5 linked regions of the Homo sapiens genome follow. The protein of the gene in region 1 purifies or fractionates together with the protein of each later gene. This does not show direct contact. Each region holds a gene or a part of one and is shown in the gene's direction. Other genes may lie near its edges. The genes, in order: SRI, RAB11FIP5, MSRB3, GUK1 and GLRX5.

Region 1 (3,810 bases):
TAACCCAGACAGGAGTCAGGAAAGTTTTCCTTGCAGAATTGATACCTAAGCTGAGCAGAAATGAGGCCGACCATGAAGTGAGTGGGATGGGGAAGTTGTGTCCTAGGTTGTTAGAACAGCATGTGCAGAAGACCCAGAAATAGCGTGGTTCAGTCAAGAAATTGAGAAATTCTCCATGAAGATAGTGTACGGGGTTGAACAAGAGTAAGAGATGAGCCTGACTTGCAAAATAAGTGTGTTACCTTATGTACCAGTTAAGGTGCTTGGACTTTATCCTGAGAGCAGTAGATCACTGATACTGGGTTTTGCATAGGAGAGCACATACTACCCCTGACTGTAAAGACTAATAAATTGGGGGACATGGAAGTAAAACAAGAGTCAGGGATGCCCATTAGGGAGCTGCTGGAGTCATACAGGTGAGAGAAATGCTAACTAAGGAGACAGTGGGGCTGGAAATGGACTCTACAGCTGTTTAGAAGGTGATTGATTATTGGTGGAGAGGGAATTGAGGAGGCTCCCAGGTTTCTGGCTTGGGTTACTGCTGAGTGGATGGGGGTGCCATTCATTAACAGAGACAGAGAAGCTGTCTGCCTCATAGCCCCTTCAATACCTTCATGTGAGCCCAACACAGTTGGCTCTGCGCTGTGGTTGTCAGGCCGTCCAGAGCAGTTCTTAAACTTTAGCAGCATTGGCATCACCTGGAAAGCTTACAAAAACCAGATTGCTGGGTCATGCCCTAGAGTTTCTCATTCAGAGGTCTGGAGTGAGTCCTGAGAATTTCACCTCTAACAGGTTTCCATGTGATGCTGGTTCAGGTTGAACCAGCTTCTTTAACATGAATATCTATCACCTGCACATCTGCTAAAATTCAGCTTCTGATTTTATTGGTGTAGGGTAAGGGCTGAGATTCTGCAGTTCTTCAAGCTCCTGGGTGATGCTAATATGGCTGGTCCAGGAATCACACTTTGAGTAGAATGGTGGTCTCAACCTTGGCTGCTCACTAGAATCATCTGAAAAGCTTTTTAAAAATACAAATACCTGGGTCCCACACTCAGAGTTCCTGATTTAATTGTTCTATGGTGCAGCCCAGGTATCAGAATCTTTTAAAGCTTTGATTCAGATAAGCACAAGTGTGGAGAACTACAGCTCCAGATTAGAGGGACTTCATACCTCCACACAACTTAAAAGTCAGAATGAAGAATCTACCAGCTCTTTCCCAAACTGTAAAAAGTGCTTCCTCCTCCTCTCACCTCAGAGAATATTATCTGTGGATCAAATGGAGATTGAAGGACCAAAATAGAAATAGTCACTAGTCTTTTATTTCCAGTAAAGCATATGCCAAACACAGGAATCTATTAAATGTGTAAAACCTATAGTTTGCACTGTTGGGAGACATTACAGTAATGAGCGCAGTTGTGTTTTAATTTCAGTTTGGTTTGAGAAAAAATATGAAGCTACAAAGAGCTGTTAAAAATGTTCTGTGTGTTAACAAGCTTGCAGAATTTATACCAGCTTTTCCCACGTGACCCTTGTCACTTCTGCCATTTAGCGTTGTAGCTTCTTTGTACCTATACAATTTCTTCAGTCATTGATTCCCATTAATTCAATGTAAGAGGTGGTTTTTAATTTCCTAATGCTTAGGTTACCAGTAACCACACCCATTGCATGTGCTCTGGTTTGGTTACATAAGTGAGGTACCAAAATGCCCTCATAATACTCCTAAACTGTAGGTAAATTAAAAAGGCTTCTGAATAGTGGCCACCACTGAATTGGTCATGGGGTCTTATCTAGAGTACTCTTATTTAACACATAATTCTAACAACCATATTTATCTGGTTTCATATATAAGCTAAGAGGTCATAGACTATTTGAGGTAGGAGGTTACTGCTCAGTACCTGACATTGAAGGGAAAATAGAAAAACAAGTAATCAGACACAAAATTAGCAAAACCAGCAATTTATAGTCATTTATGAGTAGGAACAAAGCAACCCTGACTTCCCACCCACCATGTTGGATATAATACATTATGGTTCGTTATGGTGACTTGAACTCGCTATATTACAGTTTCAAAGCAAGAAAGTATGAACAGTACTATGTAATACTTTTTTTTTTTTGAGATGGAGTCTTGCCCTGTCACCCAGGCTGGAGTGCAGTGGCATGATCTCAGCTCACTGTAACCGCCTCCTCCCAGGTGCAAGCAATTCTCCTGCCTCAACCTTCTGAGTAGCTGAGATTACAGGTGTGTGCCACCAGGCCTGGCTAATTTTTATATTTTTAGTAGAGACGAGTTTTTGCCATGTTGGCCAGGCTGGTCTCAAACTCCTGACCTCAGGTGATCCGCCTGTCTCGGCACCCCCCAAAGTGCTGGGATTACAGGCGTGAGCCACCATACCCGGACTATGTAATACTTTTTAAAAGGAATTCTGTCAAAGTTATTTAAATCAAATTTGGGTTCCTAGCAAAAAATCTTCTTTATGGAGAAAAGGCTACTTTGAAGTTCCATATGATTAGTCACACGTAAATTGATAGCATATAAAAATAAAAGTGTATAATAATCATATTTCTAATTAATTTGAATGTATCCAGTGTAATGTGAATTTTTGGATTTGTGTTAATATGTATGTACTTTTCTTGATTTAACAGCTTTTAACCTGGAGACTTGCCGGCTTATGGTTTCAATGCTGGATGTATCCTTTACTTTGATTGTTGTCTAGAATAATTTTTTCTAAAATTCTAAAGGAATTCATCTTAGAATTAATATCTAGTAAACACAAAGTAATAAATGATCACTAAAAAGCTTTCTGAAATAATTAGCTTCTATTATAGGGTGGAATTTGGTGTGAATAAAGGAAGAAAAGAAATTTAGTAAACAGAATGTTGTTCAGGAATTTAAGGAAACATCAGAGTATTATAGAACAAGTACAGAGTCCAGAGTGTCAGGACAGCTTTTTTTCTTTAACATTGATTCCTCTGCAAGTGATGGGATTTTTCACATCCCACTTGTTGGACTGAGTTTAGGTAGTGCTGACTATCCAGTGCATTCCATCCCACCTCATTTGTCTGGGGGCACTAAACAAGGGAATATTAGTACCAGAGATGATGCTAGGACAGAAGGGCAAACAGCATAGCCTGAAGCACCCACAAAGTACAGCCTAGTTCCAGTAACAAGACCGCTTTTTATAAGTGGTTCACAATGGCAACGCTATTTCCTTATAATCAAGTCATGTAAGTTATCTTTTCCCCACAGTAAAAATTGGCACTTGAGCTTTTTCTCCATAGCCCCTTTCTATTTTTAAATCATTAATTTTACATCATACCAAGAATAATCTACAATAACTTTTTTAGCCATTGAATATTGAATTCCCCTTATCCTTGATCTTTCATTTAATCCTTAGAAAATATCGCAAAATACAGCTCTAATCCTTGATTACAGTTCAGAGAGATATGTCTGGCACAATGGGTTTCAATGAATTTAAAGAACTCTGGGCTGTACTGAATGGCTGGAGACAACACTTTATCAGTTTTGACACTGACAGGAGTGGAACAGTAGACCCACAAGAATTGCAGAAGGCCCTGACAACAATGGGTAGGTATGGCTTACTAGAACTCTCCATTCATTGGTAGAAGTAAGTTGATTTTTATTTTTAAAACCAGGCTGGGTGCAGTGGCTCACACCTGTAATCCCAGCACTTTGGGAGGCCAAGGAGGGTGGATTGCCTGAGCTCGGGAGTTCGAGACCAGCCTGGGCAACACAGTAAAACCCCGACTCTACTAAAATACAGAAACATTAGCTGGGCGTGGTGGCATGCA
Region 2 (3,810 bases), on another chromosome or scaffold:
CCCGGGCAGCCCACAGAGCTGTAGGATTTGGGGTAAAGAAGAGGTGGCATTTGGAGCCCTGTGTGCACCCCGGAGTTTCTGTGGAAGTGCCTGCCAGGTTTTAGTGAGATGGGGACATTGGGCTTCTCTGCTGACCTGGAAGGGTAGTCCAATCCAAAGGCAGTTCTAGAGGCCTGAAAGGCCAAGAGTGGGCCACTGGTGGGGGAGAGATTCCAAAGGGGGGGAAGCCTGGATATCTCCCTACATTTGGAGGAAGCCCTATAGCCAAGTGCTGTGTTTTGGGGCCTAGACAGGGAGCCCTGGAGATGTTCGGAGCAGACAGAGCCACTGGCGCTGGCTGTGGTCTCCTCCTCTGTGAGGAGGGGACATACACCAGAGACCTGTCGGCCATCATGGAACCCATCTGCCTCCCCAGCCTTCTCTGAATCCCCACATCTGGAGCATGTGGCACCTGTTTTGGTGCATTATTTTCATTGCCTCGTTGGTCTAGTGCATTGCTGATGAAGGCCTATCTGGGTGCTGGCACTGTCTTAAGGTCTGGACTTCCATTTGTCCACAGCAAGCCCTTGAGGTGTAGGTGCTGTTTAACAGCTGAGGAAACCTTGGCACGGAGAGGTAAAGTGACTTTGCTTTTTCTTTCTTTTTTTTGAGGGGGTGGGGTCAGGGTCTGGCTCCATCACTGAGGCTGGCATGCAGTGGTGCCATCATAGCTCACTGCAGCCATGAACTCTCAAGTGATCCTCTTGCCTCAGCTTCCCAAAGTGCTGAGATTATAGGCATGAGTCACTGGACTTGACCACAGCACATGGCACAAAGTCAGGATGTGAACCCAGGCAGTCTGGCTTCCCAGTCTATGCTCTTGGCCACCACACCACACTGCCCACCTCAGTCTTCCCCCATGTCTTCCATGACCCTGCTCTGCACAGGGCCAGGTGCTCAGCTGCTGCCTGCCAAGGCTTCCTCTCTTCTCCTTGACATGGATCTCGGGGGTTAATCTGGTGCTCTGTAGGCATGACCTGCTTCTCCTGGGTGAGTCCTTGGTTTATTGGGATAAGCACATTTGGTCTGCAGCTCTAGCCTTATGTCTGTCCCAGAGGCTGGGGGATGTTGTCTCATACTTTGGGAGGGAGTCACTGCCACCAGATACCTCTCGGGAGTGGAGTGAGGGCTGGGTGTGGTGGCTCATGCCTGTAATCCCAGCACTTTGGGAGGCCGCGTCAGGAGGATCACTGGAGGCCAAGAGTTCAAGAGCAACCTAGGCAACATAGCAAGACTCCATTTCTACAAAAATACAAAAAATTAGCTGGGCATGGTGGTGCACACCAGTAGTCCCAGCTACTCAGGAGGCTGAGGTGGGAGGATCACTTGAGCCCGGGAGTTCAAGGCTGCGATTAGCAATGATTGCCCCACTGCACTCCAGCCTGGGTGACAGAGCAAGATCCTGTCTCAAAAAATAAAAATAAAAAAAGGAGTGGAGTGAGGCCTGAGAAGGTCAGCCTCACTTTCCACCAGGGCACTTTCCACCCTGGGGAGATTTGCTCCTTTCAAGCAGGGCTTGGGGGCATCAGCACATACCAGACTCCGTAATCCTTCCCAAGACGTCACATGCTGGTTTTACTGTGACAGAACACTCCAAGCCATCCTGTTCTTCCTCCTGCAGCAATACAGTCATTTGCTATTTTTTCCCTTCTGTTTCACAACATCCAGGAAGCAATTACTGGACAACCATTGTAACCACTGTGCCTAGGTCAGTGCTGTGGGGGAAACCAGGGAAATAAAGTGGATAGCCCTTTCTCCAGAAGGGCTAAAATATGTTTGAGATAAGCCTAACGCAGCAAGGACAATTCCTCTACAAAGCAGCATATAAAAAGCGTGAGAGAATGAGGGGGTCAGGAGAAGAGGGAGCTCACCAGTTGGAGTGATCAGGGTGGGCTTCTTGGGAGAGGTGAGGCCTTGAATAACAGGTGAGACCTGATTAGAGGCAGGGTGAGTTGGAGGCAGGGAAACTGTGAGTGTGGTGGGACTGGGCCAGGAGAGGGAGTGAGGGGAGCCAAGCTTAGTTCCCTGTGTGCCACTCTCAGCAAAACAGCAGGACTTTCTTTACTTCCTATTTAGTTTTGTTTTGTTTTGTTTTGTTTTTTGAGACAGAGTCTTGCTGTGTTGCCCAGGCTGGAGTGCAATGGTGTGATCTTGGCTCACTACAGCCTCCGCCTCCCAGGTTCAAGTGATTCTCCTGCCTCAGCCTACCGAGCAGCTGGGACTACAGGTGCGTGCCACCACGCCCAGCTAATTTTTGTATTTTTAGTAGAGACCATGTTGGCCAGGCTGGTCTCGAACTCCTGACCTCAAGTGATCTGCCTGCCTCAGCCTCCCAAAGTGCTGGGATTACAGGTGTGAGCCACCACACCTGGCCCCTATTTACTTTTGAGTAGTTCACCTGGTCCAAATTCTAAAGGTACAGAAGGGCACATAATGAAAAAAATTTCCCTTGACCCACCTTAAGTCACCTAGCTCCTCTCTTCAGAGACATCCAACATTACCAGTTCTTGTGTAACCTTCCAAAGGTGTTTTCTGCATTTAAAGGCAAATGCGTTGTGTTTTTTCTTCCCTCCCTCCTTGTTCCCAAATGCAACGTTCTCACCACACAGTTCTGTACTTCCCATGAGCCTGGCAGGGAAGTTATTGTTTGTTTCCCCCTGTTGTGGGGTCTGAACTGAGACCTTGGCAGAGGGGACCATCGCCACTTGGTTTTGTCTTCCTCAACCTGAGTCTCCTGGTCAGGGTGAATATGGGGTTAGGAGCACACTGGGGAGGGGGATGGGTTAAGTGGAATTTCTTTATTTTTCCACCTGCCAGAGATCCCCTGAGAGAGGTCATCTTGCGGGTTCTCTCCTTCCTCCTGGGCAGGGTTGTTGCTTTTTGGTCCTGGGCCACCTCACTTATATGGGGCTGATGATGGCCTGTAAAAGGCCTTTGATAGACAATAAACCCACATCTTTCTGTGTGGTTTGGCCTACTTTTAAGGGTGCCTTCCCAGTATCACCTCATTTCATTCTTCCCTGAGGGCAGACAGGGGGATCACCATTTTTGCGAATATGGAGACTGGGGTCTCAGGAGGTGGAATGACCTGTCCAAGGTCACACAACTCTTTAGTGGCAGCCAGATTTCTGATGTCTAAGCCTGATGCTTTTCTCCCTACACTGTGCTATCAACCCTACATCTTTTCTGTTGCTCTCTGTGGTTTGACTTGTCTCCAGCCATTTTTGCAGCTTTTCCTTGTGCTGGGTGAGCTGACAGTGACAGACCTTTGGAGCCTACAGCATTAGGATGAGGATTAAAAGTGCTTGTGCCCAGGAGGGAGGGAGGCTGGACCTGGCTGGGGTCTGAGGAGGGATGAGTGAGCTGTCCCCACAGAGGCAGGGGGAACTCATGAATGAGGACCTGGGCTCCCTCCAAAGGTTGCTGGTGCCAGGCATGGTGCCAGAGGAGGTGATAAGAATCATCTTCTGGCCTGATAAGAGGCTGTATCCTGTCCTGCAATTATGTCTGGCTTGCAGTTTTACTGTAGATACCAAATCAAAAGATGGGGTAGGCGGTGGATGCGGGGAGACAGCAGGGGTTGGCTTGAGGCCCACACAGCTCCTGTGTGCCAGTGTGTGAGGCAGGCTGCTGTGGTGGGCACTTGGAGAGGAGAGGAGGCATCAGGGTGGAGGAGGCTCTAGGGAAAAGGGTTTTCCAACTGTGTCACCATACTCTGAATATAATAGTTCTAGTTTCACTTTACCTTGTCTTTAACTGCATGATTTTATC
Region 3 (3,810 bases), on another chromosome or scaffold:
AGGCCTTAAGACAGTTTGATATTCAGTTTTGTTATTTAGGTCTGGGTTAGGGATACCGCCAGAGAGCATCCAAACATTTCTGTGGTTGGGAAGGCTAGTTATCTGTGAGCATTCCAGATGAAATAGCCTATAATGGGTTATCACCTTTTGATCTTACCTCAGAGAAGATTGAATTGGATCTACCTATCTGATTTAGCAGAATTAAACTGGATTTGGATGGAAGGGTAATCAGCTATTTAATTTGCCAGTTGTTAGTTAGCATTTCTTCTTGCTGTATCTCAAGGATTTACTTTGAATATTCTGTATTTTCTCTTTCCTGCCCATGATGGGTTTTCCTTTTAAAATGCTCAGCACAGGCTGGGTGTGGTGGCTCACGCCTGTAATCCCAGCACTTTAGGAGGCCGAGGCAGGCAGATCACCTGAGGTCAGGAGTTTGAGACCAGCCTGGCCAACACGGTGAAACCCTGTCTCTATGAAAAATACAAAAATTAGCCGGGCATGGTGGTGGGCACCTGTAATCCCAACTACTCAGGAGGCTGAGGCAGGAGAATAACTTGAACCAGGGAAGCGGATGTTGCAGTGAGCCAAGATCATGCCACTGCACTCCAGCCTGGGCGACAAGAGCAAAACTCTGTCTCAAAAAAAAAAAAAAATTGCTCAGCACAGTCCCTCATCCATGTTCATATATTTGTCTGTATAGTATGCTGAAGTCATGTTTATGGCTTTAAGGGAAGTACAAAAAAGGAAAGTATAGAAAAGATCAAACAAACGCATCGAACAATTGACTTTATGAAAGATTTTGGTTATTGCCTCATTTAAGCTTCTATTGCAGTAACAGAAATGAACTAGTTTTAGCAAAAAGGAAGAAAGGAATTTGTTGGAAAACCATTGGAAGTCAAATGCAGGCAGACCTCATTTAGGGCCTGAGATAAGGGACTGGAAAAATCTAGAACATTCCCTGTCTCTAGTTTGCTTCACTGTTTTTTCTTTGCTGGTGTTTTTTTTTTTTTTTTTCTCTTCATGGTTAGATGTGGCTGCTCAGCAGCTCCTGAGTATTTATGTGTCCCTTCATAAGGAGGGACTATATTATTGAGCCTTGATCCTAAATTCCTGGGAGGTAGAACCTGATAGACACAGTTTAGGTCACATGGTTGACCTAGATTTTCCCTAAAGTCTCTTCTAATTCTAGAGTATCTGATGTACGTAGTACAGCCATGTAGATGGTTTGATTTTGCATTTTTCCATTTTATGTTATGAGGTTATAGTCCTTAAAATGAATTGTGAACATTTTCTCTGATAACAACTAATTCACTCTGCAAATAATCATCTGCATATTTTCAGGAATTCACTGAATAAAATGCTGACCTCCAGTGGCTCTTTAGGATAAGTTCATTAAAACTATAAGTGGTAGAGATATTTGAAACAGTAATAGCTTAGGGACTGAGAATTTATCAGTTGTTTTCCTATTTCTCACACATATCTAACATTTTCTGTCTCTACCTTTCCTTTAGGCTGTTCCTACTGCCTGGACCTCTTCTCTATCACAACAGGTTGAAGTCTTTAAGGCCTCTGTCAGATGGTAGTTTGTGACATTTTCTTCATACCACAGAATTTGTAATTTCCTTGTGCTTCTAAGGTGTTTTGGACCATGGTTGGAGTACAAGTTTTACTATATTGTCTTGTGTTGTAGTTAAGTCCATATATATTCAACTTCACTAAACTATAAATTCCATATGTCAGTGAATCACCTAGAATTTTTTTTTTTTTTTGAGATAGGATCTCACTCTGTCACCCAGACTGGAGTGCAGTGGCACACTCATGGCTCACTGCAGCCTCGAACTCCCTAGAATCAGGTGATTCTCCCACTCCAGCCTTCTGAGTAGCTGGGCCTACAGGCACCTGCCACCATGCCCAGCTAATTGTAGTATTTTTTTGTAGAGATGGGGTTTCACCATGTTGGCCAGGCTGGTCTTAAACTCCTGACCTCAAGTGATCTGCCAGCCTTGGCTTCCCAAAGTGCTAGGATTACAGGCATGAGCCACTGCACTCAGCTAGAAGAATTCTGATAGGCTCTGAGCATCCATTGTTCCAGGTATAACAATTCTGACTTTTTCAGATACTCTGATGCTTTTATGGTATCCTGCTTGCTGCTGTCTTCTTTTGAAATTGGAGTTCAATCACTCTGCTTTTCTTTCTTAATACTTGTCTGTTTCCTAGATTTTACATGCTTTTCCATGAACACTAATTTCCTGTATGAAGAGGGAATATACAAATGATAGGATGCTTTCCTGTAACTGAGATGGCAGGGGGAAGGAGAGGACAGCAACTCATACAGAAGGAAATCAGCTTTTGTTGAGCACCCAGAATTTACCAGATCAGATAGAGAGGACAGGTGTAGAAGAAAATGAGCATGTATAAAGTGGAATAGTGGGACAATAAAGTACAAATATGGAAAATTAAGTGGAAGGCTTTTAATGCTGTTAGGGAACTTGGATTGGGTTAGTAAGTTATGAGACTGACATTTTTGATCCTTGAAATGTCATAATCAGAGGTGAATTATAGGTTATATAATCCAATAGTTTAGATAATTAATTAAATTGGGAAATAAGTCATAGGACCAATAAAGAAGTGTTTTGAGAGTTTCTCTTAAGGAATGAAGACCTAACGAGAATAGCGGCACCGCAGTAGAAGTGTTGCTAAAGTACATTGGACAGAAATAAGCAATTGGATATTGGGAAAGAAAGGGATGAATAAAAGGTGACATGAGATGTTAAGCCTGGGTGATGGAGAGAATGTGATCTCAGCAGGTTTGTGGGTGGAGGTAAAAATAAGTTTTGTTCTAGATCTCTTGCTTTTGAGGTGCTGGTAGGATATTCCTGTGGAGATGTGTAGTAGAATCCGAAGTGTGAAACTGGAACTTGGAGGGAGAGATCAAGGCTGGAAATAAAACATGTATGAGTAAGGAGAGTTAAAAATAAAGAGAAAAAGAGAGCATTTGTTAGCTGGAGTAAAAGGAAGGGTACAGGAAAAGCATCATAGAGAAGAGAGAATTTGATCTGACTTTAAAAGATGCCGAGTCGGTATATGGCATTCTGTTCACGAGCTTTCCTTGTTGAGGGGACATCACATTTACTAACTTGAGAGATAATACATGGGAAGTGTTGGACAAAGGATACTGCATCCAGAATGACCTTTCTAAACTACAAAATCATTTCCCCTCTTTCCTGCTTAACCCTCCCTCAGTGGCTTCTTATCTTTCTTCAGATAAAGGACTGACTCCTAAATGTCTTCATCATCACCAATTTGAACACACATTGTGTCTCACACTCCTCCTCGTTCCTCACTCTTCTTCCCCAAGACTGGACAGAATGTGAAGAAGATATGATTTCCACCAGATGGAGTACTCTTTATACTTTTTTGGGGTCCTTTATGGTTACTTTTTGTGGCCATGGTCAGGTTCTTATCCATAAAATAATTATTGATAACTTCCTAATGTAAAATGAAAAATAATGATAAATCACATACTTCCCTCATTTTTACAGAATTCCTTGCTTGCCTTATCTCTTCAAGTGTTGACTGCAAGGTTCCTGTACACTTACTTGAGTTGGCCACTCCGGTCACTATACCCTGATCTCTGACACTTGGCCGTGGTAGCCTGGAGCAGCATTGTTACTGGGCATTGCTGTGATTGGGTTACCCAGCTGTGCTGATGTGGAAACCTCAGGGCTATTTATTGATACTTGGTTTCCTAAAGGAAAGTTGAGGGAATGTATTTTATGAGAGGGCTTTATTTACACGATTAAAGAGGTT
Region 4 (3,396 bases), on another chromosome or scaffold:
GCTGGAGCCTGGACCCCTGCCTGGCAGCAGCTGGGCGAACTGGTGTCTTCTGCCTGTGGGCCCAGCTTCACTTCACTAGCTTAGCGCTCCCTCAGGAGGGAGGAGGGGAGGCCTGGTCAGTGGAGGTCACCACTGTGTTTCCTTCTGTGTGGGTTTATAGTCACGTAGCATCTAGGTTCAGACCCGAAGAGCTTGGAGCCAGGGGCTGGGGGGAACAGGGCAGGACCGGCCTTGGGGCAGCCCTGTCAGGCCCACCAGTGCCATGCTGGTTGTGGGTTGGCAGGGCAGAGTGACCTTAAGAAGGGCCAGCTCAGTGGAGCAACAGGACAGAAGCTCACATGGGGTCCAGCCCACAGGACCATTTGAGTAGCTCTCCCATATCGGGTCCTTCGAAGCACATGATTTAGCTTTACTTTTTCTCCTTCGTATTAGAAAAGTCACCATAATACCATCAAGTCATAATTTCTGTGATCTCAGTGCTTCAAGTAGGTGTGTAGCAATTGCTGGATGTGTCCTGAGAACTGTACCCCTTCCACCCTGGCGAGAAGCAGGGGCCAGAAATTCACACAAGTGGCATGGCTCATTGATTGTGGGAGACTCTGGGGGGCTCCTAGCTAGTGCATTATGGGAACCAGGCTGTGGAGGTTGCAGGGCTCGCTGGCTGGGAGAAGCTGAATGGATAAAGAACCCTGGCCACTGCAGTGCGTGCTGATGGTTGGCTGGCACGTAGAGGAGGTGGCAGGGCTGGGTGAGCAGCAGGAGCCAGGTTAGTGGGGAGGCCCGAGCTAAGCGCAGGGGCAAATTCTGCGGGTGGGAGAGCCAGGAGGGCATGGGGTGCATGGTGAGATGAAAACGATGTGTGCTTGTGACAAAAAGCCCAGAAGAGGCAGTAAGGAGGGAGGAGTCTATCCCTTATGGAGAGCACATGGACTTCTGGGTGGGTGTCCTGCAGTTCCCTTCCTCTTGAGTCTTTTTAACTGGGGGTCCGGTGTGTTTGTGATCAATGACATGTATGCGTGTGCATGTGTACCTTTGCAGGTACACATGTGTGGTGTGTGTGCATTTGCTTGGTGTGCGTGCATTTGTGTGTGTGTTTGTGTGTGCATGCATGTGTGTGTGTTTGTGGTAGGTTTGTGCACACATCCTGCATACCTTTGTGCCTGGGAGTGGCATGTGTGTGGTGGGTGTCGCTGTGCATGATGGAGTTGCAGCCGTGGTGCATTTGTGAGATTACCTCGGTGGCCTAAATTGGGGATTAGGAGGGCATCCTCAGGTCCTTCCCACTGTCTGCTCGTCTGCCCACAGGCGGCTGTGCCCTAAACAGGAGGAGGCCATTCACGCCTCGCCTGAGTTGTGTCCAAGGTGTGCGTGTGGCCAGGGGTCCATCCGCTTCCCTCTAGCCCAGCCCCTGAACACAGCTGCAGTGCACGGCCCCACTCCTCAGCTCTGCTCCCCATCCCAACTCGAAGACGCTGCCCTGGCCCTGTGTGTGCAGCTCATGTGGACTGGGAGGGCAGGGCAGGTGCAGGTCTTGGGGCAAGAGCTGGAGCTGTCTTTTCCTTCCTGCACAGCCGCAGAGCAGGTGGATGGGGCTGCTTCCCTGCAAGGGCCCAGGGCCAGGCCCCCTGGGGATTTATTCGTGGCTTAGAAGGGTGGGGCCAGAAGCAGGCGTAGTGGGGATTAGGGACTCAGCACCCCCAGCTCTCAGTCCAGCAGACAGACCCACCCCAGGCTGACTACAGAGGCTGCACCTCAGCAAACAGGTAGGCCCTGTTCTTGGGGAGGATTCCCACCAGGCAAAGGCCAGCTCCCGGGCCCTCACCTGCCACGTGTCCAAGCTAGGATCCTGTTTGCCTTTCCCTTGGGGGCTGGGAGGGAGGCCTCCAACCCCCTCTGGCATTACCAGCATCACAGATAGGAGTCCCAAGTCCTATGAGAAGTTCCTGGAATAGGTGTAGATTCAGTAGATCTTTACAAGACCATATCTGCAGGGCAAGGTACCAGAGGACAGAGGCGGGGACAGGGACACTTCCATTCCAGACCTAGCAGCCCAGCACTCAGCACCATGCATGGGAGCAAATGGCTGGACTCCTGGGTGGGGTGGGGGTCTCAGAGCAGGCTCCCAGAGGGCTTGGAGGTGACTCCACCAGGTGGGGACGGCAGCTCCCAGGTAGGGTGTCATCAGAGTAGACAGCATTGCTTGCTAGGGACCCCTGGGGAGGCTGACAGGGTCAGTGGGTTTCAGTTGGGGGGCTCCCCTGCTGAGAACCCAGTAAAGCCGGCCTTCCATTCGTCTCCCGTGTGCCCAGAGCCTGGTCTGAGGGCCGCCCTGTGCATGCCGGCCCTTCCAACGTGGCAGAGCTCAGGGGGAAGAACACCCAGGCTCTCAGGAGACTCTCAGGCCAATGTCTCCATCCCTGGGTCAGCCCTTTCCTGCCATGAATTCAGGAAGGCAGAGGCAGCTCAGCAGATGGGGACTAGAGGCCGCACTGCTATCCACAGCCTCTCTTCTCACCCCCAGGCATGTCGGGCCCCAGGCCTGTGGTGCTGAGCGGGCCTTCGGGAGCTGGGAAGAGCACCCTGCTGAAGAGGCTGCTCCAGGAGCACAGCGGCATCTTTGGCTTCAGCGTGTCCCGTGAGTCCAGGGCTCTCGTGGAGGGGTGCGTAGACCTCAAGGCTGCTGAGTAGTCCTAGCACCGTGAGCAGGCCAGGAGCCCAAACCCAACAGGCACACCCACCCTGCAGACTGTCCGAACTCTTGCACACTCCCCCCCACACAGAACCTGAGGTTATCACACTCCTGCTGTCCTGCGTGCCTGTGTCTCCCTTCCCTGGGTCTGTTGAGTACTGATAACTGGGCCACAGTGTTTCTTTCTGGGAGAACCCTCGCCTTGTAGGCTCCTGCGCCTTCCCAGTGGTGTGCTTCACTGGCTGCCTGCATCCTGGGGCTCAAGTGCTGTCGGGACTGCAAGGGAAACGCTGGGTGGGGCATTGGGCTCCGAGCAGCCCCCGATGGGTGACAGGTCTCTCTGCTAGATACCACGAGGAACCCGAGGCCCGGCGAGGAGAACGGCAAAGGTGAGTGGGGTGGGGCCCTATGGCTGGAGCACCCCCAGTGTGGGCAGGGCTGCTGGGCCCTGCAGCTGTGTTGGCTGTGCTGCCCGTCTCCTGCCCCCATCAATCCCTAATCTGTGAGATGGGTCCTTGCCTCCAAGGGCCGGTGAACTCAATCAGGGTGTCAGCGCCACAGCGTGGTGTCGCCTTCCTTGGGTACAGTGTGAGAGGCCGGCCAAGGCCTGGGGCTGTCTTCCTCCCACCTTGGAGGCGGCCACAGTGCTGCTGTCCCCAGCCCTGTCCTGGACTCGGCACTTATCAGCACTTTTGAGCTGTCTTCTG
Region 5 (3,810 bases), on another chromosome or scaffold:
GTGCCTAAACCGGAGGAAAACATTCTTTCCTAGTTTTGAGTACTGGGTTCCCAGGAGTGTGATACAGACACATCTTGAGACTGTGACCCAAGGAACAAAGGTGACTATGAGGCAGCATTGTGTTCTGGCCTTCTCAAGACCTTCTTGTCCTTCTCTTTTTATCTGGAGTGCACACAGAAGACAGTCACAAAGGGATCAGGTCCCAGTAGACTGACATCATCATTTCCTAATCCTGGTCTTAATAAAGGAACTTATGCTCATGGAAGCAATGTAGAAAACACTGAAAAGTTTAAAGAAGGAAAATCACCTGTAATTTATGGAAACTATTGTATTAACATTTAGATCTAGTTCCTAACAGTTTTTTTTTTTTTAACACATTGAGACCATGCTTGTCTATACATAGTATTTTGCCCTCCAGAGACGAGGGAATATGTCTTATGCCACTGCCTGTGGTGCTGTGTGTACCGCTTATGCAAAGCAAGCTTTCAGTGAGCATTTTAATAAATAAATAAATACTGCTTTTATTTATCATTATATTGCAAACTCTGCGGCCTTAAAGGCATTATAAACATTTGCTGCCGATTTAGATCATCATTGTAGTCCTTGCATCTGGAACAGTGACAGAATAGGGACTCAAATGATTTGTTGAATAAATAACCATATCCTGTTGTTGAATGTTTATTAAGCATTTGAAAATACGCTCCACCTTTTCAGTATCAGGGAATTGAAGACAGTAGTGAAACATGTCATGCTGGTGAACCTTAAAAGTTGGATAACAAGTTGTGTGTATGTGCTTGTGTGGTGCACATGTATGCTGCAGATGGGAGTATAAAATGGTACCAACACTTTGGAGGAGTAACTATCAGTACCCAGTCAAGCTATGGGTGAACAGAGCCTAAGACCCAGCTGCGTGACTCCTAGGTATATATTCTAGAGAGGGGGATCTGCAAACTTACCCTAGTAAAGGGCCAGAGACTAAGTACGTCAGGCTTTGTGGGCTGTGTGGTTTTTGTTGCATCTATTCAACTCTGCTGTTATATAGCCTGAAGTCAGTCATGGGCAATATGTAGATGAATGAGCAGGCTGAGTTTCAATAAAACTTTATTTATGAAAATACAGCTTTAATTACGAAGTAGACTGGATTTGGCCTGAAGACCATAGTTTATCTGTCCCTGGCCTAGAGACTGACTTCTGCATGTGTGTGTTAGGACATGGGTCCCCAACCCCCAGGCCAGGGATCGAGGACTTACAGCAGGAGGTAAGCGGTGGGTAAGTGAGCTTTACCGCCTGAGCTCCGCCTCCTGCCACATCAGTGACGACATTAGGTTCTCATAGGAGCACAAACTCTATTGTGAACTGCACATGTGAGGAATCTAGGTTGTGCGTTCCTTACGAGAATGTAACTAATGCCTGATGATGTGAGGTGGAACCGTTTCATCCCGAAGCTATCCCCACCCTTCCCTGGTCCGTGGAAAAATTGTCTTCCACAAAACCAGTCCCTGGTGCCAAAAAGGTTGGGGACCTCTGTGTTAGGATACCTGTGTTGGCGCGTTCATTGCAGCATGGCTTGCAATAATGAAAAACTGACAGGAAGGGATCTTGGTCTATTAGCAGCAGACCAGATAAATAAACTTTAGTCACATGATGGAAAGCTAAACTGTAGTTAAAATGAACTAGATCTAGATGTATTTAACATGGCTGAATCTCAAAAATACAATATTTAGTCAAAAAGCAAGTTGCAAACACGTAATTATGGCATAATACCATTTGTATATGTAAATGTTAAAGGCATAAAACAGTCCCATATATTGCAGATATGTGTGCAGTGCACTTGTAGCTCCTGGGCAGGAGTGAGATGGCAGCTAGAGGGTAGAGGCCACCTCTGGTGAGGGACTCAGGTAGCATGTGGTTAAGAGTCTGGGCTTTTGTACTCCTGGAAGCCTGGATATAAATCCTGGTTTCACTGCGCTGTCACTGTGAGTTTCGGTAAGTTACTTAACCCTTCTGAGCCTTAGTTTCTTCATCTTATGTAAAGTAGGGATAATTGTACCTGCCTTGTCAGATTTTTGTAAAGATTAAATAAGATTATTTTTGTAAAACGCTTAAAGAGTATGAAACTCAGTAATCCTTAACTCAATAAATGGTATATATATATATATTTTTTTTTTTTTGAGAGAGTGTTACTCTGCTGCCTAGGCTGAAGTGCAGGGGGCAATCTCGGCTCACTGCCACCCCTGCCTCCCGGGTTCAAGCGATTCTCCTGCCTCAGCCTCCCAAGGAGCTGGGATTGCAGGCACCTGGCACCATGCCTGGCTAATTTTTTTTATTTTTAGTAGGGACAGGGTTTCACCATGTTGGCCAGGCTGGTCTTGAACTCCTGACCTCAGGTGATGCACCAGCCTTGGCCTCCCAAAGTGCTGGGATTACAGGTGTGAGCCACCGCACCTGGCCTGAATGGCGTTTTCATTACTTTAGGGTATACTTAATCACTTTTTCCTGCTTTATTTTCCTATGCTTTTTCTGTTGCCTTTCTCAGAAAAGCATTACTGTGAAGGGTGGGTGGTGGAGCATGTTGGTATGGAGAGAATGTCCACACTGTACCTGGTACTATGCTGGGAGCTCAATTCATTTCATTCCTTAGATATCATGGAATCTTCATAATATGTGAGGCGTAGAGTATATTCCCATTTTACAGATGAGGAAACTGAGGCTAAAAGATTAACAGATTTGTCTGAGGCTACATTTACAGGCTAGCAAACCAGATCTACTGATCCTTAAGCCTGTGCCTTGCCCACTCTGCCCCGTGCCTTGCTTTTCCTCTAGTGAGGGTCTACTGATTTCCGTGCTTTCAGCTCAGATCATCTTATCTCGACTTAACGCCATTCTCTAAATTAGAGAATATGAAGAAATTGTGACTCTCAGAGGTGGTGTAACTTGCCCAAGATCACAGAGTCTAGTAGGTAAGAGACAGAGTTGGAACTCATATCAGATTCTGAAGCTACTGTAGTGAGGTTCTACCAGGAAAAATAAAAAGAAAGAAAACTATGATTATGCTGCTCTCGTAATTTAGTGTCCAAATCAGGAGTAATGCCCAGTGTTCTGAATGTGATGAATTTTGAAAAATACCTTTTGAAAGTTCTGGAAGGGAATTTTAAAGTATCATTTCTGTACTCTTTCTGGGTTGATACTTTGGAATATGAATTTGTTTGTATGGGTTTTTTTGGTGGAGCATTAGATGCGTGTAAACTGACTTTGTAAGATAGCCTCCTAACTCCCAGTTCCTAGTGTTACTCTGCCATATAACTTTGCAGTCAGCATTTTCTGCCCCAGATGGAATCACCACCGTCTATCACATATGAAATAATGATTATCATTAAAATTCATTCTTGGATGTGATTTTCTAATTTTCAGGAGTAGCTCTCTGATTCTGAGTTAATTTCAAGTGATATTTGTAAGAACTACCACTGCATATTGCAGTTTTTGAAAACTAAAGTGTGAGAGAGATTAACCATGTGTAAACAGTTACTTGTGGATCCGCAGGATTCATTTTAATATTCAACTTATGAAGAGTAGTCTTTTATTATTATTAGGAGTTTCTCACTTCACTCTATAGGAAGCAATTGGGTATTTCCTTAAATATTTAAACTGGTAATCAACTTTCTTAAAAATGGAAAAGAGCATAGTCATTAAGAAGGGTGCCAACGTTTGGCCTTGATGCCAGCTGCCTATTACACCTATTCATCTAAAAATTAAAGAAGCAGCTAAGTTTAATTTTGATAAACCGTCAGCTGCTGTCAAGAACAGGCAGGT

The links.
Region 2: the proteins of SRI (region 1) and RAB11FIP5 fractionate together in Homo sapiens (co-fractionation; one large-scale study listed by BioGRID). This does not show direct contact.
Region 3: the proteins of SRI (region 1) and MSRB3 fractionate together in Homo sapiens (co-fractionation; one large-scale study listed by BioGRID). This does not show direct contact.
Region 4: the proteins of SRI (region 1) and GUK1 fractionate together in Homo sapiens (co-fractionation; one large-scale study listed by BioGRID). This does not show direct contact.
Region 5: the proteins of SRI (region 1) and GLRX5 fractionate together in Homo sapiens (co-fractionation; one large-scale study listed by BioGRID). This does not show direct contact.

What each region holds. Positions count from the first base shown.
Region 1 is NC_000007.14:88,209,759-88,213,568, reverse strand, and holds part of SRI (sorcin), read left to right. Parts: intron 1-2,643; coding exon 2,644-2,687; intron 2,688-3,438; coding exon 3,439-3,586; intron 3,587-3,810. UniProt on the Homo sapiens protein: Calcium-binding protein that modulates excitation-contraction coupling in the heart. Contributes to calcium homeostasis in the heart sarcoplasmic reticulum. Modulates the activity of RYR2 calcium channels.
Region 2 is NC_000002.12:73,102,899-73,106,708, reverse strand, and holds part of RAB11FIP5 (rab11 family-interacting protein 5), read left to right. Parts: intron 1-3,810. UniProt on the Homo sapiens protein: Rab effector involved in protein trafficking from apical recycling endosomes to the apical plasma membrane. Involved in insulin granule exocytosis. May regulate V-ATPase intracellular transport in response to extracellular acidosis.
Region 3 is NC_000012.12:65,281,680-65,285,489, forward strand, and holds part of MSRB3 (methionine-R-sulfoxide reductase B3 isoform 2 precursor), read left to right. Parts: intron 1-3,810. UniProt on the Homo sapiens protein: Catalyzes the reduction of free and protein-bound methionine sulfoxide to methionine. Isoform 2 is essential for hearing.
Region 4 is NC_000001.11:228,142,990-228,146,385, forward strand, and holds part of GUK1 (guanylate kinase), read left to right. Parts: intron 1-1,706; exon of another isoform or gene 1,707-1,763; intron 1,764-2,521; coding exon 2,522-2,635; intron 2,636-3,036; coding exon 3,037-3,078; intron 3,079-3,396. UniProt on the Homo sapiens protein: Catalyzes the phosphorylation of GMP to GDP. Essential enzyme for recycling GMP and indirectly, cyclic GMP (cGMP). Involved in the cGMP metabolism in photoreceptors. It may also have a role in the survival and growth progression of some tumors.
Region 5 is NC_000014.9:95,537,740-95,541,549, forward strand, and holds part of GLRX5 (glutaredoxin-related protein 5, mitochondrial precursor), read left to right. Parts: intron 1-3,810.